2 separate regions of the Homo sapiens genome follow, and region 2 is linked to region 1. The links come from fine-mapping of genetic effects on gene expression. A gene starts in region 1. The other region holds a variant in brackets. All regions are shown on one strand. Distances are from middle to middle.

Region 1 (16,356 bases):
CAGAACTGAAGGAGATAGAGACACAAAAAACCCTTCAAAAAATCAGTGAATCCAGGAGCCGCTTTTTTGAAAAGATCAACAAAATTGATAGACCACTAGTAAGACTAATAAAGAAGAGAGAAGAATCAAACAGATGCAATAAAAAATGATAAAGGGGATATCACCACTGATCCCACAGAGATACAAACTACCATCAGAGAATACAATAAACACCTCTACGCAAATAAACTAGACAATCTAGAAGAAATGGATAAATTCCTGGACACATACACCCTCCCAAGACTAAACCAGGAAGAAGTTGAATCCTTGAATAGGACAATAATAGGCTCTGAAATTGAGGCAATAATTAACAGCCTACCAACCAAAAAAAGTCCAGGACCAGACAGATTCACAGCCGAATTCTACCAGAGCTACAAAAAGGAGCTGGTACCATTCCTTCTGAAACCATTTCAATCAACAGAAAAAGAGGAAATCCTCCCTAACTCATTTTATGAGGCCAGCATCAACCTGATACCAAAGCCTGGCAGAGACACAACAAAAAAAGAGAATTTTAGACCAATATCCTTGATGAATATTGATGCAAAAATCCTCAATAAAATACTGGCAAACCGAACCCAGCAGCACATCAAAAAGCTTATCCACCATGATCAAGTTGGCTTCATCCCTGGGATGCAAGGCTGCTTCAACATACACAAATCAATAAACGTAATCCATCATATAAACAGAACCAAAGACAAAAACCACGTGATTATCTCAATAGATGCAGAAAAGGCTTTCGACAAAATTCAACAGCCCTTCATGTTAAAAACTCTCGATAAATTAGGTATTGATGGGACGTATCTCAAAAAAATAAGAGCTATTTATGATAAACCCACAGCCAATATCATACTGAATGGACAAAAACTGGAAGCATTCCCTTTGAAAACTGTTACAAGACAGGGATGCCCTCTCTCACCACTCCTATTCAACATAGTGTTGGAAGTTCCGGCCAAGGCAATCAGGCAGGAGAAATAAATAAAGAGTATTCAATTAGGAAAACAGGAAGTCAAATTGTCTCTGTTTGCAGATGACATGATTGTATATTTAGAAAACCCCATCGTCTCAGCCCCAAATCTCCTTAAGCTGATAAGCAACTTCAGCAAAGTCTCAGGATACAAAATCAATGTGCAAAAATCACAAGCATTCTTATACACCAACAACAGACAAACAGAGAGCCAAATCATGAGTGAACTCCCATTCACAATTGCTTCAAAGAGAATAAAATACATAGGAAACCAACTTACAAGGGATGTGAAGGACCTCTTCAAGGAGAATTACAAACCACTGCTCAACAAAATAAAAGAGGACACAAACAAATGGAAGAACATTCCATGCTCATGGATAGGAAGAATAAATATGAAAATGGCCATACTGCCCAAGGTAATTTATAGATTCAATGCCATCCCCGTCAAGCTACCAATGACTTTCTTCACAGAATTGGAAAAAACTACTTTAAAGTTCATATGAAACCAAAAAAGAGCCCACATTGCCAAGACAATCCTAAGCAAAAAGAACAAAGCTAGAGGCATCACGCTACCTGACTTCAATCTATACTACAAGGCTACGGTAACCAAAACAGCATGGTACTGGTACCAAAACAGAGATATAGACCAATAGAACAGAACAGAGCCCTCAGAAATAATACCACACATCTAAAACCATCTGATCTTTGAGAAATCTGACAAAAACAAGAAATGAGGAAAGGATTCCCTCTTTATTAAATGGTGCTGGGAAAACTGGCTAGCCATATGTAGAAAGCTGACACTGGATCCCTTCCTTACACCTTATACAAAAATTAATTCAAGATGGATTAAATACTTAAATGTCAGACCTAAAACCATAAAAACCCTAGAAGAAAACCTAGGCAATACCATTCAGGACATAGGCATGGGCAAGGACTTCACGTCTAAAACACCAAAAGCAATGGCAACAAAAGCCAAAATTGACAAATGGGATCTAATTAAACTAGAGAGCTTCTTCTGCACAGCAAAAAAAAAACTACCATCAGAGTGAACAGGCAACCTGCAGAATGGGAGAAAATTTTTGCAATCTACTCATCTGACGAAGGGCTAATATCCATAATCTACAAAGAACTTAAACAAATTTACAAGAAAAAATCAAACAACCCCATCAAAAAGTGGGTGAAGGGTGTGAACAGACACTTCTCAAAAGAAGACATTTATGCAGCCAACAGACACATGAAAAAATGCTCATCATCACTGGCCATCAAAGAAATGCAAATCAAAACCACAATGAGATACCATCTCACACCAGTTAGAATGGCAATCATTAACAAGTCAGGAAACAACAGGTGCTGGAGAGGATGTGGAGAAACAGGAACACTTTTACACTGTTGGTGGGACTGTAAACTAGTTCAACCATTGTGGAAGACAGTGTGGTGATTTGTCAAGGATCTAGAACTAGAAATACCATTTGACCCAGCCATCCCATTACTGGGTATATACCCAAAGGATTATAAATCATGCTGATATAAAGACACATGCACATGTATGTTTATTGCAGCACTATTCACAATAGCAAAGACTTGGAACCAACCCAAATGTCCATCGATGATAGACTGGATTAAGAAAATGTGGCATGTATACACCATGGAATACTATGCAGCCATAAAAAAGGATGAGTTCATGTCCTTTGTAAGGACATGGATGAAGCTGGAAGCCATCATTCTGAGCAAACTATCGCAAGGACAGAAAACCAAACACCACATGTTCTCACTCATAGGTGAGAACTGAACATTGAGAACACTTGGACACAGGGTGGGGAACACCACACACCCGGGCCTGTTGTGGGGTAGGGGGAGGGGGGAGGGATAGCATTAGGAGATATACCTAATGTAAATGACGAGTTAATGGGTGCAGCATACCAATATGGCACATGTATACATATGTAACAAACCTACACACTGTGCATATGTACCCTAGAACTTAAAGTATAAAAGAAAACAAAAAACAAACAAAAAAACCCCTGCACATCTGTGCGTGGGAACTTTAAAAATCCACAACACAATGGAATAAGAGCTTGATTGTGAAAATAAATGTTTCATTAATTTGATTTTCCATTGATGTCTTTTTTTTTTTTTATTAAACCTTATTGCTGGCCAAGGAAAAGACATTCTGCAGTAGAAAGAACACCGGTTTTGAAGTGAAACAGATTTAGCTTGGAATCCTAGCTTTGCTGTTTTACTTTGTGACAACATTGGGTAGGTCATAACCTTTTTGAATTTCCTCATCGATAAAAGGGGGTCATATGTGAAGCTGATATGAGGATTATATGAGCTAGTCTGTGTGCAGTCCTTAGGACAGAGCCTGGATCTGCTAAATGCTCCATAAACATTCGCTCTTGTCAATATGTATCCATGTAAAGCCCTGCACAGAGTCTGCACCAAACAGATGCTCCCCGCTTCCCCCACCTCTTACTTGCCAATTTTTCTCCTAGCTTAAATGAGAATGGATTTTACCAAAAACCGAGTCACAGTGTTGCGTGCTTTCTGGGATCTGACCTCTTCTCACTCCCTGCAATGGGTTGAATGGTGGCCCTAAAGACATGTTCTAACCTCTAATCCTGGAACCTGTGGCTATTCCCTTACATGGCAAGAGAGTGACTATGACCTTATATCTGAAAGGATGTGACTAAGCCAAGGACTTTGAGAGGAGGAGTTTATCCTGGATTATCTGGGTGGTCCCTAAATGCAATCACATGCATCCTTAAAGGAGAGGCAGAGGAACTTTGAAACAGGTACACAGAGGAGCGATGCACACAGACGAGGCCAAGTGAAGATGGTGGCAGAGACCAGAGTGATGAGGCCACAGCAGCCAAGGCTGGAAGGACCAGGGAAGATTCTTTCCTAAAGGTTCTAGGAGAAGGCCCCCAGCTGACTTTTTTTTTTTTTTTTGAGGTGGAGTCTTACTCTGTCACCCAGGCTGGAGTGCAGTGGCGCGATCTTGGCTCACTGCAACCTCCGCCTCCTGAGTTCAAGCAATTCTTGTGCCTCAGCCTCCCAAGTAGCTGGGACTACAGGCGCATGACACCACATCCAGCTAATTTTTTATTTTTACTAGAGACAGGGTTTCACCATGTTGGCCAGGCTGGTCTCAAACTGTTGATCCTAGGTGATCTGCCCACCTTGGCTTCCCAAGCTGCTGGGATTACAGGCATGAGCCACTGCACCCGGCCTGCTGCTGACATCTTGATTTCAGACTTTTGGGCACCAGAACTGTGAGAGGATAAATTTCTGTTGTTTTAAGCTACCCAGCTTGTGATAATTGGTTACAGCAGCACAGAGACAATCACACACTCTATTAATCTGGGCTAGAAGACAAAGCCCTTCCTCTCTTTTTCCAGCAACTCGACAAGAGAAACGACCTGTGCAAGAGGGTGGACCACAGCCCACACAGGTGTGTGCAAACACACCGCTCAGCCTCGTCAGGCATATTTCCTCAGAGACCCTGGCACGGCCAGGCCCTCCTCACCCCCAACAATACAGAAGAGTGGGTGAGGCCCTGAGGCTACCCATCCCCCCACCTCCCGCCGACCCCTCGCCTGTTTTTTTTTTTTTTTTTCCCTGTTTTCTCTCTCAGGTTTGGGATTCTTTCAGGCGCAGCAAAACTTTTCTTTCCACAAGTCGTGACAAAGCTTACAATGCAAGTATCTTCAGTTACATAATATGTAGACTTTAGCAGGAACCTCTGTGTTCTGTAGTAAATGGCTTTACTACAGGTCGCTTCCTGCGTGTGTGGGCTTTGAGAGGGAACACAGCTGGAAAGAACACGTGGGACCAGAAGAGATGTTGCTATGGTGAAAGCTGAAGGCACAAAAGAGAGTCGAGAGTTCTGAAGACCCAGGCTTCCTCCCTCACAGTTTTGCAAAGCCAGCCAGAGACCATGCCCCTGGCCAGTCAAATGATCTGATCGTTGGGCCTTCCAGCAGCTCTGTGAATATGTAATATAGTATTATCCACATTTACAGTCAAGGAGACAGAAGCCAGTGGAGATCAACTAGTTTGTGCAAGTTCATGTAACTAGGAAGAGGGCAGAGACAGGACTTGAGCAAATGACCATCTGTCACCAAGACCCTGGCATGCCTCGTTGCCTCTAGCTAAAGAGAAATATAGGAAAATGCATGTGGAGGGGTTCAGTCTTACCAAACCCACCTCGTTGGAGCCCTGAAGGTCCTTCTGCATCATATTCTTCCACCATTCTCTGGGCAGCCATGAGCCAGAGTCAGTGCTAGGCCAGGGATTGGCCATGTGCAGGAAGCTTCCTATTGCCCTGTTGTATGGATGGAGAACACCTGGGCCTCAGTCCCCTCTGTTGCTATTTAGTGGGGTGTTGTTATTATTATTAGGAAGGACCCAACTTTGAACCTCTCTGTGCTTTAGTTCCCTCATCTGAAATGTGGAAGAGGGGTAGGTTGGATGACTGGTTCTGCATCTTTGCTGTCCATGAGAACTTCCCAAGGAGTGTTGGTTGGGCCAACCACTGCAGTTAAACTGGAATCTCCCTGGGTGGGATGCAAGCATCAGCATTTTCAGAATTTCTTCAGATGATTCTTTTTTCTTTTTTTTGAGACAGAGTCTTGCTCTGTCGCCAGGTTGGAGTGCAGTGGCCTGATCTCAGCTCACCGCAACCTCCACCTCCCAGGTTCAAGCGATTTCCTGCCTCAGCCTCCCGAGTAGCTGGGACTACAGGCGTGTGTCACCATGCCCAGCTAATTTTTGTATTTTCAGTAGAGACAGGCTTTCACCCTGTTGGCCAGGATGGTCTCGATCTCTTGACCTTGGGATCTGCCCACCTCGGCCTCCCAAAGCACTGGGATTACAGGCGTGAGCCTTGCGCCCGGCCCAGATGATTCTTAAGTACAGCCAATGTGAGAACCAACAGGTTACTTGATTGCTAAGATTCTTCCAGCTGCAATGTCTTCTGTCCCCATCTGCATGTAAAGACAGTACTGCTAGGGTTCACTTATCCAGACAGTAACGATTCATGAAAAACCCTCAACTAAAGCCCCATGTTCAACTTTTCCCGAGAAAGTCACCTCCCTTTGGTTTGTCCAACAATATAGTATTTAAAATCTGTATAATGGTCTCAACCCTCATGGTCTTTCATGCTTTTAAGAAAGAGGAAGGATTAATGGGTAATAAAACTATTCAGGAATGGCTTAGTTAATTATTATTCTAGGTCTTGCTATAAATGGTATCCTAGGGTTCTGAAAAAAATAATTAATGTAATTTAGTCATCCAGCACTAAGCCCTCATTTGATCTGAGGACTGCTACATTCAGGCTGAAGGTAGAGAGATGAGTAGTCTTTTGCACTTCAGAAACTCCCAGTCCAAGGTGATAATAACAACAGCAATAATAATAACAGCTGCAGCCAAAATGGGAAAATACTTATTGAATATCAGGCATTGCTAACAGGTGCTTTTTATATGTTATTATTTTAGATCCTCACAACAACCCTGCTAGGTAAGCATCATTTCCTTCATTGTATTCCTGGGGAAACTAAGGCCCAGAGAGGTTAGGTAACTTGCCAAGGTCACACAGCTAAGAAGTAGATGATCTGCCATTCTGATCTACGTCTATAAGATTTAAAATCCCATGCTCTTTCCATCATATGATAAAACCTCTAGAAAGAGAGAAAGGATTGAGAAATAGAGATAAAGATGGCAGGGAGAGGGTTAACTTCCATGGGAGAGAATCCGGCCCAGGTGGAGGAATTGCTGTGAATTGCTCACATGAAAGGTGTTAAAAGAAAATCAGTCTTGTAATTCTGTATCTTAACTATGTTTGGGGCTCAATCCTGTTAGAAGGTACAGCACTGGAACATGTAAATTCATTATGAAGAGCTAGTTCTTCTTCAGTCAGTCCCAGCTCCCTCCAATTAGTCTTCAAAAATAAACCCATTGTATGTTTCGTGGCTTAGCAACATCATTTTTCAGCCAGTGTGAGCTCTTTGGTTCTTAGCAGATTTTCACTTTTACTGACTGCCATCAGTGATATAAAATGTACCAGGAGGAGAGGATGGTGGTGGGCACAGCTGTGACAACGCCTTTCTCTATGCTGTTCAGATCCAAACACGGTATGAGCCGGCACGTTCTGAAGGCGCGCACACACACACACACACACACACACACACACACACACACACACATACACATACACAAACACTATTCCAAATGAGCTAAGACCTGGAGAACACACTATACACATATATACATTAGCTAACTCAGGAATCTAAATATAAATTTATTTTTGGAGAAACCCCCTGGGCTAAAATAATTCACCCACAAAGCCAGATGTAGCTTGAGGGGTAATAAACATGCTATGGCCTAGAGCAGGAAAAGGGAAAAAAGAATGAAGCAGTACATTTTCTTAATGAGGCTTTTTCAAACCACCATTTCATGTTGTAGCCAAAACAGATAAAATCACCAAAGGAACTTAGGATCTTGAAGAATATTCAGAGACTGTAGAAAGTGGTTTAAATAATAGATATTTAAGAAAAGATTCTAAAAAATATTTATTATGTTTATAAAATGGAAATTTCATGTTTATACTAAAAAAAGATTTACTATTACACATAAGTATTACACGAAGATGTATATAAACACATTGCATATGCAAAATGTATACACATAGACCACATGGCCAAATATGTGATATTATAAGGATAAGTTGATCTCACAGCAACATTTTGATGTGGAAAATTACCTCCACTCCAGAAATTATAAGTAAGGAAGATATACCCTGGCATTGCAAATAATAGCATAGGGATATGTCATTACACAACCTTGGATGAGATAACATATCAACCCGACATAAATACAGGCAACATCTATTCCTGAAAGGAATAAAAAAATGCTTACGAAGATACAGCAATGAGATACTGGGCTAATCGAATGACAAAAAAAATGTGATGTGTTCTTACATTGCTTACCCTAATTTTTAAAAAAGATTTGGAAAAAACAGAATAAAGATGACACTATCTGAAATAGTTGGTGTGCTTGAAATCCAGTTTTTAAAATTTGAAGGTAGGAATACTTCAACAAGATCATAAGCTTATACAACAGATCATAAGCTTATTTTTCTGTTTCAGATGCTTATCAAACTAGAAGTGAACATTTTGAACAGGTTTGTTTTCTAGGTGAAATCCTCTTTCCACATCCTACATAGCAAATACTCATGCACACCCACGCACATGAACACACACACACACACACACACACTTCTCTTTCTCTCCTTACAACTGTAAATCCATACCATGAGACTAAGGATGCTAACAACCAAAGAATGTGTTAAAGCAGCATTTTACCTCTTTGCTGATCAAACACAGAAGGGGTGCTGAAATCCATGGTAGCCTGTCTCATCATTTACCATCAGAATGGCAAAAAGCATCCAGGTCTCTAGAGAGGAGAAAACACCATCTCAAACCTTACTGTCAACATGACAGTCAGAGGCAGCATCGTTTGCCAAGACCTCTGTTTCAGGATTAAATGTGCATCAGAGCTGCAGGTTGTTGTCAAGGCAAGGTGATGAAAATAGGTAAATGCTATTCCTGTAAATACCTGCTAGGAAAAGAGTTACTCTATGGCCTCATTCATCAGCTGTACATGGGCATAATACACCCTCCACCCCCAAATCAATAAACACAATTACTCAAACTCCAAAAAGATAGTAAAATTGTATGGGCCACCTGCCTTGGATCTGGGCTGGAAAAACACAGCAGATCACGGAGCTTCAGCAGCTGGAATGTCGCTTTACACCAACAGAAATCTGAATGGGTGAGTGAGGATTCACAGGGCCAGACAGAGCATGTGCAAAGCTGCCAATGCAGTTCGCATTCGGCTGTGCTTTTGGCGGAGTGAGAACTGCATTTGGGTCATGTGAGCAGAGAGTGCCATCTCAATGGAATAGGATGTAAATATTGTAGCAGGAGGCTGCTGGCCATGTGCTGTGTGGAGTAATTATCCATGTTGGCAGTCTTCTTCACTCCCCTTTCAGCTCCGTTCTCCAATTGACAGGGAGGATGGGGAAAGGCGTCATTTGAAAGGTGACATTTCAAGGCTCGAGTGTCTGTGGTGATAAAATTAAAACAGTCTGCTGTCACAAGGGTGTTTATTGTAGCATTACATGTAGTAAAACCTGAAAAATCACCCGAATGTACCTCATTCAGGGAGCAGCTAAGTAAATGGTAGTAAATTCGTACTCTAGATTTAAAAATCTGACATAAATAAATCTGTGTATTTATCTGGTGACATGTCACTAATCTATTGTTAAATGAAATAAACAAGTTATATATTTCATTTGTTCGTGTTTTAATAAAACCGGAAACCACTCACTGTATACATTATTTTTATATATTCAGACGAACACTGAAAAAGATGTAGAAAGATACGTACTAAACTGCTAATATTGGTTCCCTCAGGCCACTGTGATTAGAGTAGGAGATTTCTAACTTGTTCTGTATCAATCTCTGTATTTTTGGCTTGTTAATAACCAGTATCTATTATCTTGTATTTGTAATAAAAATATGATATACTAAATTCAAACAAAGTTCTATATTCTAGGCACAACCAGATTTTTGGATAAGTCAAATAGCCATATAGTAGATGCTTGTTGAATCTAATAATAAACACCAGCTTCCTTTGCCCTTGGATAGGATGATTCTGAGGCATGGTGTTTTACTCCGTTTGCCATTTCCCTTTCAGGATTAAACTCCTTCAGGGTTAAACTCCACTGCCACCTGTGAGAATAGGTCTAATAACGTTCTTTTTATGGGCTGCTGTTCCCTCCCTGTATTACTTTCCCACGTTCCTACTGATATTTCCTGCACTTCTCAATAAGTTACTTGCATTGGAATCATTGTCTCAGGGTCTGCTTTTACGGAAACCCAAATTAAAATATTTCTCCACAAGAGGGTACATTTCATAAGGGCAGGGTCTTTGTCTACTCTTTCTTTGTCTGCTTTGTCCACTCCATGTCCTTACAGCCTAGCACAGAGAGGGGCACAAAGGAGGTGCTCAGTACATTTCAGTGCATGAGTGAAACTTCACTGAAGAACTTTCCTTGCTCAAGCTGACAACCTGCTCACTGACATTGTAACATTGGAACCCAATTAACCATCCTTCATGGGGTAAGAACTTTCTGACAAGAACTTCTGTAGTCCTTGAAATTTTCTAGTCTAAACAAGAAACCATGTACTTGAGGATTGGTTCTAGGGTTTCTGGAATTGGCTCTCAAATCTGATTAAATTTAAGGATTCTAATAGCTTTATTTCTAGGAGTAAAGAGAGCATTGATAGTCCATGGTGTGAAGTGGTAATAGAGATATGCAAAAAGCTGCACTGAATATTCCTAATTAATCACTGGACACAACAGGCAAGGAGTTGGGTGACTGTGTAGATGATACCCTCAAACATTTTTGGAAACTTAATGAATATGGCTGGTTGCTCCTAATGTCACTGGACAAAGTGATGAAAGAAAAGGATTAGCTCACGGATTCTAATTCCCAGCTCAGGTGCCATATAGATGACCTGGAGGTGTGTATGTGTACCCTGAAGGAGAGTCTTACCTCCTGTAGCCATGAGGCTGAGGATGCTGCAATCAAATGCAGGCTCTCATGCTGCAGCTGCCTGAATTACAATGCAAATTGAACTCCTGAATTACAGCGCAAGTCAAACTCCCAGCTTCACAGGATGTCTGCTGTTAAAGTGAGGACATTGATTGGGAAAGTAGAGGATACTGTAAATTGGATAGAGACATGTGAGAAGACCCTGATGAAGCTGGGGGACACTGAGCATCTAAACTCTGAGGAGTCTTCTTTGCCAGTGGAAGTGGACTCCCAATCCCTAGTAGAAGCAGCCTCCCCATCTCCAGTGGTAGCAGCCTTTTCACCTCAGTCTGAGAAGATTGACTCTGAATTGCCTGAGGAAACTGTATTGGCCTTCCTTGAGGCAGCTGCCGTGCACAACAATGCTGATTCTCTTCAGGAGCCACCACCATTGTTCCTCTGCTTCTAGACCTATAACTAGACTCAAGTCCCAGCAGCCCCTAAAGGTGAGGTGCAAAGTGTGACCCATGAAGTACATTATATTCCAAAATAATTACTTGAACTTCCTAAAAATCCAGGAAACATGGGAATGGATACTAAGGGAGTGAAATAATGGTGAAAGGAACATAAAGTTAGATCAGGTTGAATTTATTGATATTAACTAATTAAGCAGAAATTCTGCATTTACTGTTGCAGCTCAGGCAGTTATAAAGTGTTCTAACAGTCAGGTTAGTGGGTTGAAACATGGACCAAAAAGTGGCCCAGGGTGAGCAAATTGGAAATACTGGACTTGCCTTGGTTTAATGTGGAAGAGATTCAAAGGCTTAGGGAGATTGGAATGTCAGAGTGGATTTGTCATTTAAGAACTACTCACCCACACTGGAGGGTCTAGAAGACATACTTTTAGCAGTACCGTGAGGAATAGGAATAAATCTGTGAGGGGAACCCCAGCATCTTTGAAGAGTTCTGTGATTGCTCTTCTCTGCAGACAGTGAGAACTGCAGTCATTGAATTGGGAAACCTAAATGCAGTGGGAATAATTGGATCCTAGGATGGTAGGGCTAAGTGGTGGTACTCAACTGCCAAAGACAAGGTGGGCATAGTTACTGTTGTGGAAAAAAAATAGAATCATGGCACCCCAAATTCACTATGCCACAGGGAAATTTAAGCTTGAGAACTGAGTCATGCAAAAAGCTGTCTTCTTTCGTTCCCAAACAGATAGCTGTATTTTCACATGCTGACTTTATCATATGTAGAGTTACTGGGCATGAGAGAAATGTGTAATTGCTTTTTCCCCTATTCCCTCTTTTTTTTTTTTTTTTTTTTTTTTTTTTGAGACGGAGTCTTGCTCTGTTGCCCAGGCTGGAGTGCAGTGGTGTGATCTCGGCTCACTGCAATCTCTGCTTCCCAGGTTCAAGCAATTCTCCTGCCTCAGCCTCCCGAGTAACTGGGATTACAGGCCCCCACCACCACACCCGGCTAATTTTTGTATTTTTAGTAGAGACAGGGTTTCACCGTATTGGCCAGGCTGGTCTCAAACTCCTGACCTCAGGTGATCTGCCCACCTCAGCCTCCCAAAGTGCTGGGATTATAGGCATGAGCCACCACGCCCGGCCAACTCTATTCCCTCTTTCCACATGTAATATGTAGACTCACTGAGTGCTAATCAGAGCCTCACAAAAAGGTGACCACTTGTTTCATTGCCTATCCTCTCTCCTTTATTTCCCTCCTCTTCTGCTTGCTCTGTCCTCTTTAAATACTGAAGTTCCTAAAACTCTCTTTGGAAAAAGCCCAGGTCACAGATCCCACTGTGACCTGTGTTTCTTTTTCCTGGTTGCATCCTCAACCTTGGCAAAATAAACCTGCAGTCAATTAAGATCTACCTCAGTCACTCTTTGGTTTATGCTGTAATGGACAGCAGAGGTCCAAGCAGCAATCAGAGTTGTCTGAGTCATAGAAACCTATGGCATTGGCTAGTTGATCATGGCGTTTCTCAAAGTAAAATAGATAGGAAGCCTATGAAATTCTTAATCTGCATAAGCAGAAAAGCTCTAGGTTAAGTGACAAAAGTCTAACACGAATCATAAAAACAGAGAATCATGATCCCTCAATTAATTCCCAGAATTGAGCCTGTTTACAAACCTAAAACCCCTTAAATGAAGGGGAGGCTGGAGCCCTTGAGGAAAGGCCCTGGTACCCTACTAAATGTTTATACTGTTAATCTTTCTCTCAGTTTTCCCCAAAAGAGATGTATGGCCTTTTTACTAGGGTAACTGTGCATTGAGAAAAGAGAAATAATCAGACCTCTCAGGGCTTACTGGACATTGGCTCTGAGCTGACACTAATTTCAGGAGACTCAAAATATCACTGTGGCCTGCCAGTCAGAGGAGGGACTTTTGAAGGTCATGCGGTCAATGGGATTTCAGCTCAGATCCATCTCACAGTGGGTCTAATGGGCCCCAATGCCATCCTGTGGTCATTTCCCCAGTTCTGGATGCACAATTAGAATAGACATACTTAGCAGCTCACAGAATCTCTACATTGGTTCCCTGAATCGTGGAGTAAGGGCTATTATGGTGGGAAAGGCCAAGTGGAAGCCACTAGAACTGTGTCTACCTAGGAAAATACTAAACCAAAAGCAATACGACATTTCTGGGGGAACTGTAGAGGTCATAAAGGACCTGAAGGATGCAGGGGTGGTGATTCCCACCACATCTCCATTCAACTCTCCAATATGCTTTCCAATTTGGCAGAAGACAGGTGGATCTTCGAGAATAACAGTGGATTATAGTAAGCTTAACCAGGTGGCAACTCCAATTGCAGCTGTTGTTCAGATATGGTTTTATTCCTTGAGCAAATTAAAACACTCTCTGGTACATAGTATGCAGTTACTGCTCTGGCAAATGCTTTTTCCTCTCAATACCTATTAGTAAAGACCACCAGAAACAGTTTATTTCAGGTGACAAGACAACATTCTTGATGAACATAAATCCAAAAATCCTCAACAAAATACTAGCAAACTGAATCTAGTAGCACATTAAAAAGTTAATCCACCATAATCAAGTGGGTTTTATCCCTAGCATGCAAGGTTGATTCAACATATGCCAATCAATAAATATGATTCATCACATACACAGACCTAAAAACAAAAGCCGCATGATCATCTTACTAGATCAGAAAAGAATTTCAATAATATTCAACATCCCTTCATGTTTAAAACCCTAAACAAACTAGGCATTGAAGGAATATATCTCAAAATAATAAGAGCCATCTATGACAAACTCACAGCCAAAAACATACTGAATGGGCAACCCAGTATAGGCAGGACTGTACTGAATTCTGGAAGCATTCCCTCTGAGAATTGGAACAAGACAAAGATTCCTACTCTCACCACTCCTATTCAACATAGTACTGGAAGTCCTAGACTGAGCAATCAGGCAAGAGAAAGAAATAAAAGGCATCCAAACAGGAAAAGAGGAAGTCAAACTATCTATGTTTGCAGATGATATGATTTTATACCTAGAAAACCTCATATTCTCTCTGCCCCAAAGCTCCTACATCTGGTAAACAACTTCAGCAAAGTTTCAGGATACAAGATCAATGTACAAAAATTAGTAGCATTTCTATATACCAACAACATCCAAGCTGAGTGCCAAAACAAGAACGCAATCCCATTCACAACAGCCATACACATACACACACACATACATATACACACACACAGACACACACATACGCAATACCTAGGAATACAGCTAACCAGGGAGGTGAAAGAGCTCTATAATGAGAATTATCTTTCAAACAGATTCTTTTATTATTCTTTTCTGAAAGAAATCAGAGATGATACAAACAAATGAAAAAACATTCCATGCTTGTGGATAAGAAGGAATCAATATTGTTAAAATGGCCATACTGCCCAAACCAATTTACAGATTGAATGGTATGCCTATCAACTTATCAATGACATTTTTCACAGAATTAGAGAAAAATTAGAAAAATTTTTAGAATTAGAAAAAAACGATTCTAAAATTTATATGAAACCAAAAGAGCCTGAATAGCCAAAGCAATCCTAAGCAAAAACAACAAAGCTGAAGGCGTCACATTACCCAACTTCAAACTATACTACAAGGTTACAGTAACCAAAACAGCATGGTACTGGTACCAAAACAGACACATAGACCAATGGAACAGAATAGAGAGCCCACAAATAATGCTGCACACCTACAACCATCTGATCTTCAACAAAGTTGACAAAAACAAGGAATGGAGAAAGGACTCCCTGTTCAATAAATGGTGGTGGGATAACTGGCTAGCAATGTGCAGAAGATTGGAACTGGACCCCTTCCTTACACCATGTACAAAAATCAACTCAAGATGGATTAAAGACTTAAAAGTAAAACTTAAAACTATAAAAAATCCTGGAAGATAACCTAGGAAATAACATTCTGGACATAGGCCCTGACAAATATGCCTATGCCTATGTTGTCTTTCATGACAAAGACACCAAAGCAATTGACAAATGGTACCTAATTAAATGAAAGAGCTCCTGCATAGCAAAAGAAACTATCAACAGAGTAAACAGACGACCTACAGAATGGGAGAAAATGTTTGCAAATTATGCATCTGACAAAGGTCTAATATCCAGAATCTAAAAGCAACTTAAACAAATTTATAAACAAGAAAAAATCCCATTAAAAAATGGGCAAAGGACATGAACAGACACATTTTTTTTTTTTCCAAGACAAGGTCTCACTTTGTCACCCAGGCTAGAGCACAATGGTGCAATCTAAACTTACTATAGCCTCCACCTCCCAGGTTCAAGCAATCCTTCTGCCTCAGCCCCAAAAGTAGCTGGGACTCCGGGTGCATGCCATCATGTCTGGCTAACTTTTTTGTACTGTTTTGTAGAGATGAGGTTTCACCATATTGGCCAGGCCGGTCTTGAACTTCTGAGCTCAAGCAATCTGCCCACCTCAGCCTCCCAAAGTGCTAGGATTACAGGAGTGAGACACTGTGCTCGGACATGAATAGACACTTTTAAAGAGACATACCCGTAACCAATAAGCATATGAAAAAATGCTCAACATCACTAATCGTTAGAGAAATGCAAATCAAAAACCACAATTAGACCCATCTCCCATCAGTCAGAGTGGCTATTACTAAAAAGTCAAAAAGTAACAGATGCTGGAGAGGTTGTGGAGAAAAGAGAACACTTATATACTATTGGTGGGAATGTAAATTAATGCAGCCACTGTGGAAAGTAGTTTGGAGATTTCTCAAATAAATTAAAACAGAACTACTATTTGATGCATCCATCAAGTGGAAAGTTTCCTTAATTTCAATTTTTCAGTCAGATTTGTGTAAGCTGATCCAATTGAGATGTCTATGTTATTGGTTATTGTTTCTGCTGTTAATCGTCATTTCTCTTCAATTAAGGTATAAACAAGTTGAATTTTTTCCTTGCAAATTGAAATGGATGATCTACTGTTTCAGGCTTCATTTCCAAAGTGATCTCGTCCTTTCTTAAAATGAGTTATTCATTGATAAACGACTGATTTCTTTGGGAGCGTTGAGCTCATAAACTTTTCATAAAAGATCAACGATTTCACCATTCTTCCACTCAAACTTCCCCATAAATATAATATTTGTTCTTGTTTCAATTTTAGCAGGATTGAGCTCATAAACTTTTCATAAAGGATCAATGATTTCACCATTCTTCACTCAAGCTTGACTATAAATTTAACATTTGTTTTTG
Region 2 (16,356 bases), 72 kb before region 1:
TGAACTAGAAACTGGGGATACAAAGATAAAAAAAGGCATGGTCTGCCTCTAGAAGTTTATAGGGTTGGAGGAGAGTGGGAGAGGGAGGTGGGGGCTCCTAAGTAGTGGTGACCCTACTCCATTTTTTTTTTTTTAGATGTTCGGTCTTAGGCTAAAACTTCTGATTCATTAAAAACTTTTGTTTGTTATGTTACCTTTTGCTAACTGTAAAGTTAAAAATTTCAAGTCAGGGACTGTTTCTTCTGCTTTTGGTTCTATCTCAGGAATGTGGTAAGTAGAAGTGATGCTAAGAATTATGTCCAAAAGGTCACATCTGTTTTTGCAACTTAAATTTATTTTCTCAGAGTGGTTCTACAATTGAAGTTTTGTTTGTCAGACTGCTCACAAAAATCTGCTTACATAAGAATGTGCATTTAATATATCCTAAACAATATATATATCCTAAATGCTGTGCATAACAGTGCTTCTCTGGTTAAATGCATTCAAAGTTCTAACCCAGATGCCAACAGCTCAGAGCCTCTCTTGATAGAACACTCTTCCTGTCAAGGCTAAAATGAGAGCAGGAGAGGTTAGTTTCCATTTAACTCCCGGTAGCTGCAACAGACAAGCCTCACTCTATGTCAATGATTCTTCTGAGGTCCTGTTTTGAAGAACAAAAGCACAAAGGACAATCTGACCTATCTTGCTTTTTTCAGTGTTAACCGCAGTGTGGATAACTTCTAAATAAGTCAGTTTATAATTAAGCAGTGTGGTTAATGAAACAGGAAAAACAAACAGATCATTGGAACAGAACAAAGAGTTCAAAAATGAAACCATATATTAAAAAAAATCTGGTAACAAACAAAAACATAATTTAACATAACATAATCCAGTTCTTGGGGTAGAGAAGGCCTTCTTTAAAAAGACATCAAAAGAAAAAGCAGAAACAGACAAGAATGATCATTTTAATTATATCAGATTTTTACATTTCTGAATAAGAAAAGGTACTATGAACTATTTCAAAATAGCCAACAGCCTACGAAAAAGTATTTACAACCCAACAGCAAAGCATTAATATTCAGCATATAAACTAAACTCCTATAGATCAATAAGAAAATGACAACCCAATGGATCAATCGACAAAGAATGTAAACAGGCAAGTCACAAAAGAAGATATAATAAAGACCATTATGTCTATGAAATGATGTTCATCTCATTAATCAGGGAAAATGCAAATAACAAGAAAATCCAGCAACAACTGGGAAAAAACCAGTACTTCCACTAAAAACAACAACAACAACAACAACAACAACGACACGCAGCTATTTTGGGGGAATAATTAGGCAGTGTGTATTAAAAATAAAAACATACACTCTCTACTACCCAGCAATTATTCTTTTAAGAGAAATGCTTGCACAGAGTATGCAAAGAGGCTTGTACAAGAAACACTCTTTAGACTGGTGTTTATGATGGTGAAAAATTGAGACAACCTAAATATCCATTCATAGGGGAATGGCAAAATAAATGGGGGTATTTTGATATTATGTAACATGATGAAGCCATTAAAAGGAATGAGCCACAGGCTGGGTGCCGTGGCTCACGCCTGTAATCCCAGCACTTTGGGAGGCCGAGGCAGGTGGATCACGAGGTCAGGAGTTCGAGACCAGCCTGGCCAACATGGTGAAACCCTGTCTCTACTAATATACAAAAATTAGCTGGGCGTGGTGGTGGGTGCCTGTAATCCCAGCTACTCGGGAGGCTGAGGCAGGAGAATGGTGTGAACCCGGGAGGTGGAGGTTGCAGTGAGCCGAGATCGCACCATTGTACTCCGGCCTGGACAGGGCAAGACTCCATCTCGAAAAAAACAAAACAACAACAACAAAAAAGGAATGAGCCAGATCTATATGTATCAAAAATTCTAAGACAAATGCTTGAGTTGAAAAAACTAAGTTAGGCCGGGTGTGGTGGCTCACACCTGTAATCCCAGCACTTTGGGAGGCTGAGGCGGGTGGGTCACGAGGTCAGGAGATTGAGACCACCCTGGCTAACACAGTGAAACCCCGTCTCTACTAAAAATACAAAAAAAATTAGCTGGGCGTGGTGACGGGTGCCTGTAGTCCCAGCTACTTCGGAGGCTGAGGCAGAACCCAGGAGGTGGAGCTTGCAGTGAGCCAAGATCGCACCACTGCACTCCAGCCTGGGCAACAGAGTAAGACTCTGTCTCAAAAAAAAAAAAAAAAAAAAAAAAAGTTGCAGAACACATAGAGTGGTACCTTTTTTTAAACAATGAATTTAACTGTTACTCCCCGCTACCCCTCATACAATGGAGGCTACATCATGCTTGGAGCTTGTTGAAAAAAGACAGACGAGAGAAGATTACTTGTTCAAAACATTGAGCAGCCAAATACAGGAACTCCACCAAAGTAATGAATGAAAAAGAAAGCCTGGGCTGTGTTCTTTCCATTTCAGAATTGTATTTATTTCTCAATGGCAAGAGCTTTTGCTGTTATAAATTTATCGTGATTGGCTCTCACTAGCAATGACCAATAACTAAATAAAATAAATAATTGGCAAAAACGGAATTACAGCAGAAGATTTAGTTTTAAAGTTTTTTTTTTTTTTTTTTGAGACAGAGTCTTGCTCTGTTGCCTAGGCTGGAGTGCAGTCACGCCATCTCAGATCACTGCAACCTCCATCTCCCAAGTTCAAGCAATTCCACCGCCTGCCTCAGCCTCTGGAGTAGCTGGGGCTACAGGCATGAGCCACTACAGCCGGCTAATTTTCATATTTTTAGTAGAGACGGGGTTTGGCCATGTTGGCCAGGCTGGTCTTGAACTCCTGGCCTCAAGTGATTCACCCACCTCAGTCTCCCAAAGTGCTGGGATTACAGGCGTGAGCCGTGGAGCCGGGCCTCAAAGATCTTAACTGGCTTCATTTGCAATTCTAGAACTGGGCTTCATTCCAAAATGTTCTGGCCAGGCATGGTGGTGCACGCCTATAATCCCAGCACTTTGGGAGGCTGAGGCGGGAGGATCACTTGAATCCAGGAGTTCTAGACCAGTCTGGGCAACATAGGAAGACCCCTGTCTCTACCAAAAACAAAAAATGAGCTGGGTATGGTTGTGCATGCCTGTGGTGCAGGGTTTCTGTGGTCCCATCTACTCTGGAGGCTGAGGCAGTAGGCTGCAGTGGGCTGTGATCGTGTCACTGCACTCCAGTCTGAGTGACAGAGTGAGACTGTCTTAAAAAAAAAAAAAAAAGTTTTCCAACGAGCCCAGCAGAGGAGGTTGGTTTTGTAGACAGAGAAGGACTGAAAAAAGCAGAAGCAAAGAACAAAAAGCAGATTGGTTATTTCAAAGTTACTTTCCTTGAAAGATGAAAGATGAGAACAGGGAAACAGAACAACAGAGAAAAAACTGATTGCTTAACATCAGGTTACTTTAGGTTACTTTTTGTTGTCAGGATTAAAAGCAGAGGAAATTTCATTATTATGCTAAGTAAAACTAGCCTGTTTGGGAAATTTGGGTGTTATCTCTCTCCTGATTTCTCAGAAGGTCAGATAACAACTCGGTCTCAGTTTGGTAACTTGGAATTTAAGTATGAGGGACTCCATTTTGATATTTGGCCTGGTCTGTTGACCTAGTACAGGAGCTCAGTCAAAAACAAAATTATGAGTGCCTCAGAGTTATATGAGTGCCATCTCTACTAAAAATGGAAAAATTAGCCTGGCATGGTGGTGTCTGCCTGTAGTCCTAGCTACTCAGGAGGCTAGGTGAGAGGATCACCTGAGCCCAGGATGCGGAGGTTACAGTGCACTGACATCGCACCATACCACTGCACTGTAGCCTGGGCCACAGAATGAGACCCTGCCTCAAAAAAAAAAAAAAAACCAAAACCATGTATATATCTATATACAGATACATATATATACACATACACATACATATATGGATACATAATATATACATACACATATATATCCCTATGTTTTGTTTTAAATCTTCAGTGATTTAAAGCAAAACCTCAGGGGAAAAGAGGGTTGCACTGTTAGAAACTTCTGCTTTAAAAATGAGAACCAGAGATGAGGTAGCACACTCTGGTCACTCTGCCCATGGTGTGGAAGCAGGCAGCCGGAGTGGCGGAGTCCATGTGTATGAAAAACACAGGCAAGCATTAGCAGTTGGTTTCAGATGGATTCCAGACAGCAGGCTGTGAATGGACCAAAGAGGAAGCTGTGACCATGGGTAGGAAGTGCCTTGTTGAGGCCCTTGCTCTGCTGGGTCTGCTTTCTGGGCTTAAAACCCAACGGGTCCATATGCTGGTGTAATAGCAGGAGGAATCTTTTTGCAGAAGTCCCTTTGCATGAGGAGGAACCAGGGACTTTTCCAATATTTACCACATATTCTATGTAAGGTGTTACAATTACCACTCTTAGAAAGATCCATGTCTGCTTTCATTGTCTGCACCGCCAGGTGCCTCCTGGGGTGGAGAAAAATAGGGAACTATGTCTTTGCTGGGGGGTTGCTAGTTCTACTGAGGGGTGCTGGAGTTGTAGGTCTATAAGTGGAATTTAGCTTTAGGGTATAAATGAGCAAATTTGTCATCTTTCTAAATAAGACCTAGTTTAGGGATTACCCCAGAGGTTGGAGGTGGAGGAAGTAGTTGGCAACTTGCCCTGAAATCTAGAGGTTCACAATCTGCTGACATGGACTCCGCCACTCCAGCTCCCTGCTTCGACACCATGGGCAGAGTGACCAGAGTGTGCTACCTCATCTCTGGTTCTCATCTTTAAAGCAGAAGTTTCTAACAGTGCAACCCTCTTTCCTCTGAGGTTTTGCTTTAAACCACTGAAGATATGGGGAGTGAAAGCAGCAGGGGCTTTCTGATGTGGTCATTAATGCTAGTCAGAGGGAGGCCTTTAATCAGAAGGCTCAAGACAGATGGGTGGACCGGGCGCAGTGGTTCACACCTGTAATCTCAGCACTTTGGGAGGCCAGGGTGGCAGATCACCTGAACTCACTGTGGGGAAAAGAAAGAGAAATCAGACTGTTACTGTGTCTATGTAGAAAGAAGTAAACATAAGAGACTCCATTTTGTTCTGTACTAAGAAAAATTCTTCTGCCTTGAGATGCTGTTAATCTGTAACCCTACCCCCATCCCTGTGCTCGCAGAAACATGTGCTGTGTCGACTCAAGGTTTAATGGATTTAGGGCTATGCAGGATGTGCTTTGTTAAACAAATGCTTGAAGGCAGCATGCTTGTTAAAAGTCATCACCACTCCCTAATCTCAAGTACCCAGGGACACAAAACACTGTGGAAGGCCACAGGGACCTCTGCCTAGGAAAGCCAGGAATTGTCCAAGGTTTCTCCCCATGTGATAGTCTGAAATATGGCCTCATGGCAAGAGAAAGACCTGACCGTCCACCAGCCCGACACATGTAAAGGGTCTGTGCTGAGGAGGATTAGTAAAACAGGAAGGCCTCTTTGCAGTTGAGATAAGAGGAAGGCATCTGTCTCCTGCTCCTCCCTGGGCAATGGAATGTCTTGGTGTAAAACCCAGTTGTATATTCCATCTACTGAGATAGGAGAAAACCGCCTTAGGGCTGGAGATGAGACACGCTGGCGGCAATACTGCTCTTTAAGGCATTGAGATGTTTATGTATGTGCACATCAAAAGCACAGCACTTTTTTCTTAACCTTGTTTATGATACAGAGACATTTGTTCACATGTTTTCCTGCTGACCCTCTCCCCACTATTACCCTATTGTCCTGCCACATCCCCCTCTCTGAGATGGTAGAGATAATGATCAATAAATACTGAGGGAACTCAGAGACCGGAGCCGGCGCGCGTCCTCCTTATGCTGAGCGCCAGTCCCGTGGGCCCACTTTTCTTCTTCTATACTTTGTCTCTGTGTCTCTTTCTTTTCTCAAGTCTCTCGTTCCACCTGACGAGAAACGTTCACAGGTATGGAGGGGCAGGCCACCCCTTCACTCACAAGTTTGAGACCAGCCTGCTCAACATGGTGAAACCCCGTCTCTACTAAAAATACAAAAATTAGCCGAGCATAGTGGTGCACACCTGTAGTCCCAGCTACTTGGGAGGCTGAGGTAGGAGAATTTCTTGAATCTGGGAGGCGGAGGCTGTAGTGAGCTGAGATTGCACCACTGTACTCCAGCCTGGGCGACAGAGTAAGAATCTGTCTATTTAAAAAAAAAAGGCAGATGCGGGGGCATCTGCCCCAGAAGAAAGTGATTAGGAGGCTTACCCCCGCCCCCTTGCCTATGGTCACCTAGCTTCCTTGAAAATAATGTAATCGGCATCTTTGTGTATGTACATTTTTAATGTTATCAGACTTTCTTAGTGAAATGCAACCAAACCAAGCACATATTTACTTTAAAATTCCATTGAAAACCAGGTATTTAAATTGATTTTAAGAACCTTGTTAAGGAAATCAGCCTGGCTAAGGAAAATTAGTACTGCATTTTAAAAGAGTTAAGCAGATCTAACAAGACTCTAAGCTACTCTTGGACAGCTCTGCTTAGTGTCTGAGCCACCTTCCCTCAAGAACTTTGTTGAAGAGTGTTGAACGACCTTTTTGGAAGCCTTCTACTTGCAACATGAATTAAACAGCAGTTACGATCACTGGGATTAATAATGTGATGTCTGGAGCAGGTAACCCGGAATTATTAATATTATCTCTCTGTCATCTTTTTCTTTTCTTTTTGGAGGGGAGGGGGACAGGATGTCACTCTGTCACCCAGGCTAGGGTGCAGTGATGTGATCATATCTCACTGTAACCTTGAACTTCTGGGCTCAAGTGATCCTTCTGCCTCAGCCTCCAGAGTAGCTGGGACTATAGGCATGTGCCACCACACCCAGCTACTTTTTAAACTTTTTGTAGAAATGGAGTCTCGCTCTGCTGCCCAGGCTGGTCTCAAACTCCTGGGTTCAAGTGAGCCTCCCACCTTGGCCTCCCAGAGCACTGGGATTACAGGCATGAGCCAGTGTCCAGTCTTGTCATTGTTTTCCTTTTTCTTTCTTTTTTTTCTTCAGAGAGGGGGGTCTCACTTTGTTGCCAGGCTGGACTCTCAAACTTCTGGGCTCAAGTGATCCTCCCACCTCAGCCTCCTGAGTAGCTGTGACCACTGGCACGCGCCACTACACCCACCTCTCTGCCATCTTACACGAGAGAGCATGTCTTAGGCTGAGTGCAGTGGCTCATGCCTGTAATCCCAGCACTTTGGGAGGCCGAGGCAGGCAGATCACCTGAGGTCGCGAGTTTGAGACCAGCTTGACCAACACGGAGAAACCCCATCTCTACTAAAAGTACAAAATTAGCCGGGTGTGGTGGCGCCTGCTTGTAATCCCAGCTACTGGGGAGGTTGAGGCAGGAGAATCACTTGAATCTGGGAGGCGGGGGTTGCGGTGAGCCAAGACGGTGCCACTGCACTCCAGCCTGGGCAACAAGAGCGAAACTCCATCTTAAAAAAAAAAAAAGAGAGCACGTCTTGAGCCACCGCTTGCTACTAAGTTTCTGGGACTTGAGAAGACAGGAGAGAGCAATATTTATTTCTCAATGTCCAGAGGGAAGTTACAAAATTTCAGTCGTATGATAAATGCTGAAGTACTTAATGCAATAAAGTCCTTCCCTATCAGAAGCTACACACACCCATGGTGGGGATAAGTTTCTGCTGAGGATTAATAGTGAAAACAGGTCTCCCTTTCAGGGTAGGAACACAGAACCATGCCTCATGTCTCCCCGTAGCTTTTAAGAGGAAGCACAATGGTTCAGAAA[C/T]GCCCTTCCTTTCACCCTCACATGCAAAATGACCACTTGTTGCTTGAGAGTGTGGCTCACCTCATTGTCCTGGTGATTAATCTCGCTGATGTTCGACTGTTGCAACAGGACCGTGAGGAGCCTGTAAGGAAAAAATAGGAGAAATGGCTCAAAATAACAGGCAGTCACGGTGCTCTTGGAATCGGTATAAAAACATGACCTTAGAAAAACCGTCAGTTGAAAGACTCCAAATGAAGATGAGGGCCCTTTCCGTTTCTCTGGGAAAAAGATCCACAGAAAAGAAGCAAGAGTGTGATAGGTTAGAAGACACCTGTGTGGAGGGCTACTGTCTGCCTCTCCCACCCTCTCTTCATCTCAGCACTCCCGAGGGGCACAAGGGGATGGAGAAACTTTAGGCTCATTGTGTTCACCAGGCCTCTGTCTCCTAGCCATGCCCTTTAAGATCCAAAATCATGTAGCAATTATTATTATGATTTTTTTCTTTGAGATGGAGTCTCGCTCTGTTGCCCAGGCTCGAGTGCAGTGGCACGAACTTGGCTCACTGCAAGCTCCGCCTCCCGGATTAGCACCATCCTCCTGCCTCAGCCTCCCGAGTAGCTGGGACTACAGGCGCCCCGCACCACGCCCTGCTAATTTTTTCTATTTTTTAGTAGAGACGGGGTTTCACCGTGTTAGCCAGGATGGTCTGGATCTCCTGACCTCGTGGTCCGCCCGCCTAAGCCTCCCAAAGTGCTGGGATTACAAGTGTGAGCCACCGTGCCCGGCCACTTATTCTTTATTCTTTATACACACATGCCTAAGCACAAGATTCACTTTATAGAAACTTACAGAGTGCTTTCGACCTGCTTCACTCCTAGCTGCATATGTCATGCCTTTTTAATGCATAGATTATACCAGGAGGTTGTCAGTATTTGCAAGTTTGCTCATTCTTTGTAAAATACACACATGCCTAAGCACAAGATGACAGTAATCAGTGTAAAACAGCTATCAATGATTCTCAGATTCAGGCTCTTACCTGACTTGGATCTCCTGCTCAGTTGACTGAAGTCAACGCTCCATCTGGGAGAGGGGGGCAGCCGAGCATAGTGGAGAGGGGCCCGGGCTCTGCAGCCAGATGGCTTGGGTTTACATCCCAGCCCTGCCACTGATGAGCTCTGTGACCTCAGGCAAGTTACTTACCTTCTTCCTGCCTAAACTTCCTCATCTGTGAGATAGGAGTGATAAAAACTACCTATCACACAGCTCAGTGTGAGGATTAAATGAGTTAATATGCATACAACATATAGAGCATGCCTGGAACATGCTGTTATTTCTAGAGTGCTTAACCCCAGAAGTTTGGACCCTGGCTCCATCTCAGAATTGCCTGGAGAGATTTTTTTTTTTTTTAAACCACAAATACCTGGACTCTGTACTCAGGGTTTCTAACTCAGTAGGTCTGGAGAAGCCCAGCTTCTACTGTTTAAAAAAAGCTATTCAGGAAATTATGGTAAACAGCCAGGCTTGGAAACAATTGAGAAAGGTGCTGAAAGAATTAATCAATGGATACTCATCAAGATGATAAAGAATAGTGTATGGGCAGTCAATGGAGGAAATTCAGAAATTGCTTTTGGAAGAATTATTTGTAAAATGAAATTGTTTAGTCTCTTCTCCAATCAAATCTTTATCGTCTCTCAGATTGGAAGACATCTAAAGCCCTAAGTATTAAATTGTTACTTGCAATAGAAGAAAAGAAAGATCCACTAATCATATTGCCTTAGCAGTAAATGTAATACACAGAGAGCTTAAATAGAGATGGACTTCTGGTTATTTGCGGTGGAGGTGAAATAACCAGGAAGCCTGTGGTTTCAATCTTGTTGTATCATAGTCTTTTGGGGAGCCAGGATAATGCTGAGGTTTAATTCTGACCTCACTACTGCACGATCTGAGTTTCTGTATCTTCATGTATATCAGAGGGGTAGTAACGCAGTGGTGTAAAGGATTGAGTGATCCAACAGGCAGAAAGACCCTGGGTCACATACACTAAAGGGACAATGGCTATGACTGCATACAGTACATCTCTTTTATGCTCTCTGAATTCTAGATGTAGCCTTTGGTAGGAAGACATATAAAAATAATTGCATTTTGGGTCACACAATTTTTATCTTTGCAATTATTTCACCACTGGATATATTTCCCTGTGGCTGCTTTGTGAGTGGGGGCAGGGCTTACCTTGTGACTGTGCTTCTCCTTTCTTTCTTTCCTTTCTGTCTTCTCTGGCTCATTATTGGCCATTGTTTACTCTCTAGGGCCCATTTGGTCTGAGGGACTGGGGGAGGAGGGAAGGGCAAGGCAGGAGGTCAGCTGTGGTCCAGTGTGGTTATCCTTGGTTACTCCTGAGCAGACAGAGATTATCTGTAGCCAGACAGGATCTTCTGGGGCTCTAACCAGATTAGAATGGGGGTAGGGAGAGCAGGACCTCTTGTCATATCCTGGGTGGCCTCCCAAGGTTGTGGGATGAACCGTGTGCCTAGATAGTTCTCTATTTGGCTTTCAAAGCCATTCTCTTCTTTATACTGCCCTGCTCTGAGGCTGACTTCTAGGGACCGCATCAACCAGGCTCCCTTGCCCTTGGCTTCCTATCGGGTTTTGCCGATGGGGGAACTGGCAGGAGGAGGGAGAGAAGCCAGCTCCCTTTCTGGCAATAATTGTATTTCTCTACCAAAGGCCTCAGTTCTTGCCAGGTGGCCCCTCTCCTACAGCTAAGCTACCACTGCAGCTCTCAGAAGTTTCCAGTAACAGCCCCTTCCTTGCCCCTTTAGGTCTAGAAAGTGATAACATTTTCCTGCTCTTTTGGGGAAAGTGGGGGTGGGGTAGGGGGTTAGAACATCAACCATCATCTCTTGTTGGTCAATTTTTGGTCAATTTTTTTTTTTTTTGAGACAAGCTCTCACTCTGTCACCCAGGCTGGAGTGCAGTGGCACAATCACAGTTCACTGCAACCTGGACTTCCTGGGCTGAAGCGATTCATCCTCCTGCCTCAGTCTTCAGAGTAGTTTGCACTACAGGTGTGCACCATCACGCCCAACTAATTTTTTAGTGTTTTTAGTAGAGATGGGGTTTCACTATATTGCCCAGGCTGGTCTTGAACTCCTGAACTCAAACGATCCTCAGCCGCCCGAAGTGCTGGGATTACAGGCGTGAATCACCCTATCCAGCCTTGTTGGTCAAGTTTAAATAGTCTTTCCCTAGACTTTCTCCAGTTGCCACCCTTTAATTCCCATGTCTTCTCTGTCATGGCTGTGACTGATATGTGATGATCTATGTGGCCCAACTCCACTTGACTGTGAAGTCTCTGAGATCCATTGATCGTCAAAGCTGGACACAAATAGACAGATCAAGGCCCTCTCCTGCATTCTTGCCCTCACTCTGGCTCTGGCTGTCTCTCATATGTTGTGAGAACAAAGAACCTGAGGCCCTTCCTGGCTTGCCAAGACCACCATACAGTGGCTCAGTGATACAGCCTGAACCAGAAACCAGGTGTCTCATTGCCAGCCTGGGACTTCCTTGCTGTTCTGTGGTATGGAGGTGACCTGCGAGATACTTGTCCAGCATCTATGTCAATTCCTAGATGATTTGCAGCCCTCTGTTGTGCTTCCCCCGAGCTCTCATTTTGTGTTACCATGGCCCAGGAGTCATTCTACACCCCCATCAGCCAAGTTCAGACTCCCTCCTGTCCTCGGATCTCTGAGTAAGTGATGTAAGACCCATCTCATCTCAGGTGCCAGTACAGCAGGCTTGGACCCCAGCAAGAGCAGTCCCAGACAGGTGGTGTGTTGAGTCATAAGAGCACTGATGCTGGGGCCAGACTGCCACTGTTAGAATCCCTGCTCCATACCAACCAGCCAGTGACCTTGGGCGAGCTCCCAGTGCCTACATTTTCTTATCCATAAAATGCAGAGAATAATACCTACTTCCTCAGGATCTGTCATGACTTTGACTCCATGCACACAAAGCACTTGGAATAGCCCTTACATGCCATAATAAAGTTTTATATGGCCAGGTGCGCTGGCTCACGCCTGCCTGTAATCCCAGCACTTTGGGAGACCAAGGTGGGCAGATCACCTGAAGTCAAGAGTTTGAGACCAGCCTGGCTAACATGGTGAAACCCCGTCTGTAATAGAAATAGAAAAATTAGCCAGGCATGATGGTGGGCACCTGTAATTCCAGCTACTAGGGAGGCTGAGGTCGGAGAATTGCTTCAATCTGGGAGGTGGAGGTTGCAGTGAGCCGAGATTATGCCACTGCACTCTAGCCTGGGCAACAGAGCTTGAGACTCTGTCTCAAAACAAACAAAAAACAAACAAAAAATTCTATAAAATGATTAATTTTTTAATAGCTCCTACCTTCTATTTTCTGGGTCTCCACTGATTATCATTAGGTGAATGGTGGGTCTCAGAGAAGGATCAGCTAGAAGCATCCTGGGGACAACTCATCCCTATGAGCTTTCCTGTTTCGCTGGCCCCTCTGAATGTTCCCAGCCCTGGAGCTGGCCAGCGCAGTGACAGGTGGGAAAAAATGGTCCCACAACCAGCCGTCTCCCCTTCCTGTCCCTGGAGCTGCCTGTATTAGAGTGTGCTGCAGTGAGACAAACACTGCAGGTCAGAACACACCACCTGGTAACTAGAGAACAGGACCCCAAGGAAATGATTTTCTTCCTCCCTTGGGCTGCAGTCAAGAGTGATGAAAAGAGGCAGAGTGGCTGGCACTCTGACAGGGAGGAAAAAAAGTCTGCCAGTAGCCATGGAGACCATGAAAAAGACCTTCAGAGAGCCCCGTGGCTGCTTTCAGAGAAAATTGCTGCTTGCCTTCCAACACTAGCATGTGCAGCGTTGTACAAACACAACTCTGTTCTCTTTGGAGCTTTGTTTTAATGATCATGCCCCCTCTTTCACACCAGCGCCCTCTGAATGTCCCAGCCAAGGAAGCAAGAAAAGCCTTGGGGAGCTGAAAGGGGGAAAACTTGGACCTGCTGAGAAGCAGAGGGTTCAAAGTAGGAAGGGGAATCATGAGAGGAAACCTGTGCATCTTTGCTTTTGTAAACCCAGTGTGCCTTCACGTTCATGATTATAAATCACTTATCCCTGCATCAGCCTCCATCCCCATTGAGCGGGTGTTTAGTTAAGGATGCAGATTCATACTGTTTGGTTTGTTCAGGAGTTGTTTCCATCTGAGCACTAAAATCCCTCTGGAGGCAAAGGACTAATTGAAGCGTCCCTTAGCTTGTTTATAAGCAGCTTCGGTTTGAGGCTTCTCTCTGAATAACCTCCAGTGAGCACCAAATAGAAGGAGCTTGCTGTTTGGAAATCTAAGTGTTAGCAGATTTTAAATCAGTATAAAAACCTGAGCACAAGGGCACTATGTGGCCTGTACATACTGTTTATGATTAGGGGAAAATGCAGACATATGCCAGTTTACAAAGGTGTGCATAGATCCACACAAACAACACACCCCAACAACCATTGCAGTAAACCTGTGTGCCCGGCAGTAGGATGTAGGACTGCATTTACATGGGCCTGTGTCTGTGCACACATTTTTGTGGACCTGAGTGTGCTGAGGTGAAGAAGGCCAGGATGAGCACCAGTGGGGTGGCAGTAGTAGTGTTTCATTCCTTAGCTTCTTATAATGTTTATGGTGTTTCTTTCTATCTTCCATCATCATCATCATTGATGACCATCAACATTATCATATCATCACGCCATCATCATCACCATGTTCACTTTCTGAACACGGACAATGTACTAGGTGCTGAGTTCAGCGTTTCCACACATTTTCTCCTTTACTTCTGCCTACTTCCCTGTGAAGTAAGCAGGAATAATATATTTAATAGTACTTACTTCGCCAGGTGTGGTGGCTCACTCTTGTAATCCCAGCACTTTGGGAGGCTGAGGTGGGCGGATCACCTGAGGTTGGGAGTTCGAGACCAGCCTGACCAACATGGAGAAACCCCATCTCTACTAAAAATACAAAATTTTCCGGGCATGGTGGTGCGTGTCTGTAATCCCAGCTACTCGGGAGGCTGAGGCAGGAGAATTGCTTGAACCCAGGAGGCGCAGTTTGTGGTAAGCCAAGATTACGCCTTTACGCTCCAGCCTGGGCAACAAGAGTGAAACTCTGTCTCAAAAAAAAAAATAGTACTTATTTCAAGGGGAAGCTGAGCCTTGACATGTTAACTTGCCCAAGAGAATAAGAGCTGGAGCCAGATTTAAACTCAGTCAGTCTGACTCATACTCATGAGCTGGCACTCCTGGCCACCCTTCAGGGATCTTTCTTTTCTTTTTCTTTCTTTCTTTCTTTCTTTCTTTCTTTCTTTCTTTCTTTCTTTCTTTCTTTCTTTCTTTCTTTCTTCTTTCCTTCCTTCCTTCCTTCCTTCCTTCCTTCCTTCCTTCCTTCTCTCTCTCTCTCTCTCTTTCTTTCTTTCTTTCTCTCTATCTTTCTCTCTTTCTTTCCTTCCTTCCTTCCTTCCTTCCTTCGGGTCTTGTGCTGTCGCCCAGGTTGGATTACAGTGGCACGATCATAGCTCACCGCAGCCTCGAACTCCTGGGCTCAAGCAATCTTCCAGTCTCAGCCTCCTGAATAGGTAGGACTACAGGAGCACACCACTATGCCTGGCTACTTTTTTAAAAAAATCATTTTTAGAAATGAGGCCTCATTATGTTGCCTAAGCTGGTCTTGAACTCCTGGCCTCAAGTTATCCTCCTGCCTCTGTCTCCCAAAGCACTAGGATTACAGGTGTGAGCCACAATGCCTGGCCCCTTCAGGGATTTTAGATTGTTTTCAGACAAATATGGTGAAATAAGATAACGAGTGAAGAAACAAGACAAAGAGAAAACACGGGCAGGAAAAAAAAAGACATGATCTATAGTCCTACATGTATGCCAGAGGTGGGACACAAATTGAGTTTTGAATTTTCTAAATATATAAAGAAAGAAACATGCTCTGAAGTCACAGTGTCTGTATAGTAAAATTAAAAAAAATGATTTATCAGGAGCAGCATAGCAATTCCTTCTTCAGTAGAAATATTTCTTGTGGTTTCTCATATAGAATTTTTCGGAGGTGCTAATGAATCATGAGCCAGGAAGTTTTGTAAGACTGTTTCTTATAAGGCTTCTCAACGGAGACCAAGGGCTTAATGTCAAAATATGGCCATTAAAATAAATTCGGTTTCTACTTTAAACATTTAATGCAGATGTATCAAACTCTGCCATGGACCTAAAATTTCTCAAACAACTATAAAATATGTAATTTTAACAATGTAATTCCATAGGGAATCCTTTAGGGTGGACTAGTTTCCAATATTCTGTAGGTAACCAAACTACAGTCATGCATCATTTAATGATGGGAATACTTTCTGAGAAATGTGTCGTTTGGCGATTTCATCATTGTGTGGACATCATAGAGTGTATTACACAAACCTAGATGGTAGAGCGTACTACACACCTATGCTATATGGTAGAGCCTATTGCTTCTAGGCTACAAATATGCACAGCATGTGACTGTACTAGACACTGTAGGCAATTGTAACACAGTGGTAAGTATTTATGTATCTAAACATAGAAAAGGTACAGTAAAAATATGATATAATCATCTTATGGGACCATCATTACACATGCAGTCTGCCATTAACTGAAATGTCATTATGCAGCGTGTGACTCTATTTGATTTGCTGTATGGTTGTTAGGACTTAACCCAATTAATCTTTGGAGAGCATTTACCAGAAATAACAATTTTGGTTTTGGAATAGTCAATCTTAACTTTTTGGGATTATTAGTTAAAGCAGCTAGCATTGCCATAACTAAAGCAGAATTTTATCTTTCAGAATCAGTTAAGGGCTTTTTGGACAATATAACTAACTACGTCATCTGCACACAGAAGGATGTTTATTTTTCTTATTTCAACTCATCCAAGGGTGGTGGCTGGGCTGTTAGGTACAGTTTCAAGAGAGGGGAAGCCACAACTCTCTGCTCTCCTAGTTATAGCAACTTAATGTAGATCCTCAAGAGTCGAGGAGTACTGATAAGCATAATAAGAAATAGAAACACAAGTCCACAAAGAGGAAGTACACTTGGGTTGATTTTCAATTTATTATTGCAGTGATTTCAGAGAATGAACCTAATCAACTGATCCAATTGACATTGAATGTAATTTTGACTGACAAGGCTTAGTTTACCCCTTAGGTGCAATGGGTTAAGAACAGAGACAGAGAGCTTTTCACCAAAATCCATGTTCCCCTTTCTTGGATTGGAGGCATTGTTGGGAGGTAGATTCCTGGCTAGAAACTATATTCCCCAGAGCACCTTATAACCAGATGTGGTTGTATGACTAGTCCTTATTGATGGAATATGAGCAGAAATGAATTGTGTCATTTGCAGGCTGAGGTTTTAAAGAACTGAGTGTGGCTTCTCTATAGGGTAGTCCCTGCTTAATCTGCGGTTTCGCTTTCCATTATTTCAGTTACCCACAGTTCACTGTGGTTCAAAAACATTCAATGAAAAATTCCAGAAATAAACAATTCATGTTTTAAATTGTGCGGCATTCTGAGTAG

What was found. PIP is the estimated chance that this variant, and not a neighbour inherited with it, causes the effect.
Region 2: its variant is fine-mapped to the expression of ANKRD55 in whole blood (TOPMed, PIP above 0.99).

The regions. Positions count from the first base shown.
Region 1 is chr5:56,224,492-56,240,847 of GRCh38, forward strand. It overlaps ANKRD55 (ankyrin repeat domain 55), which reads right to left and starts at 8,839. Exons shown (of 12, transcript NM_024669.3): 1 at 8,750-8,839; 2 at 8,365-8,455. The coding sequence starts at 8,422. RefSeq lists an enhancer at 15,665-16,356.
Region 2 is chr5:56,151,998-56,168,353 of GRCh38, forward strand. ANKRD55 (ankyrin repeat domain 55) reads right to left here. Exons shown (of 12, transcript NM_024669.3): 6 at 7,836-7,896. Among named protein-coding and RNA genes, the nearest start is that of ANKRD55, 73 kb to the right of the region's middle. RefSeq lists a silencer at 4,721-4,890 and enhancers at 4,881-5,676, 8,067-8,862. The variant C/T (reference allele first, on the strand shown) is at 7,776.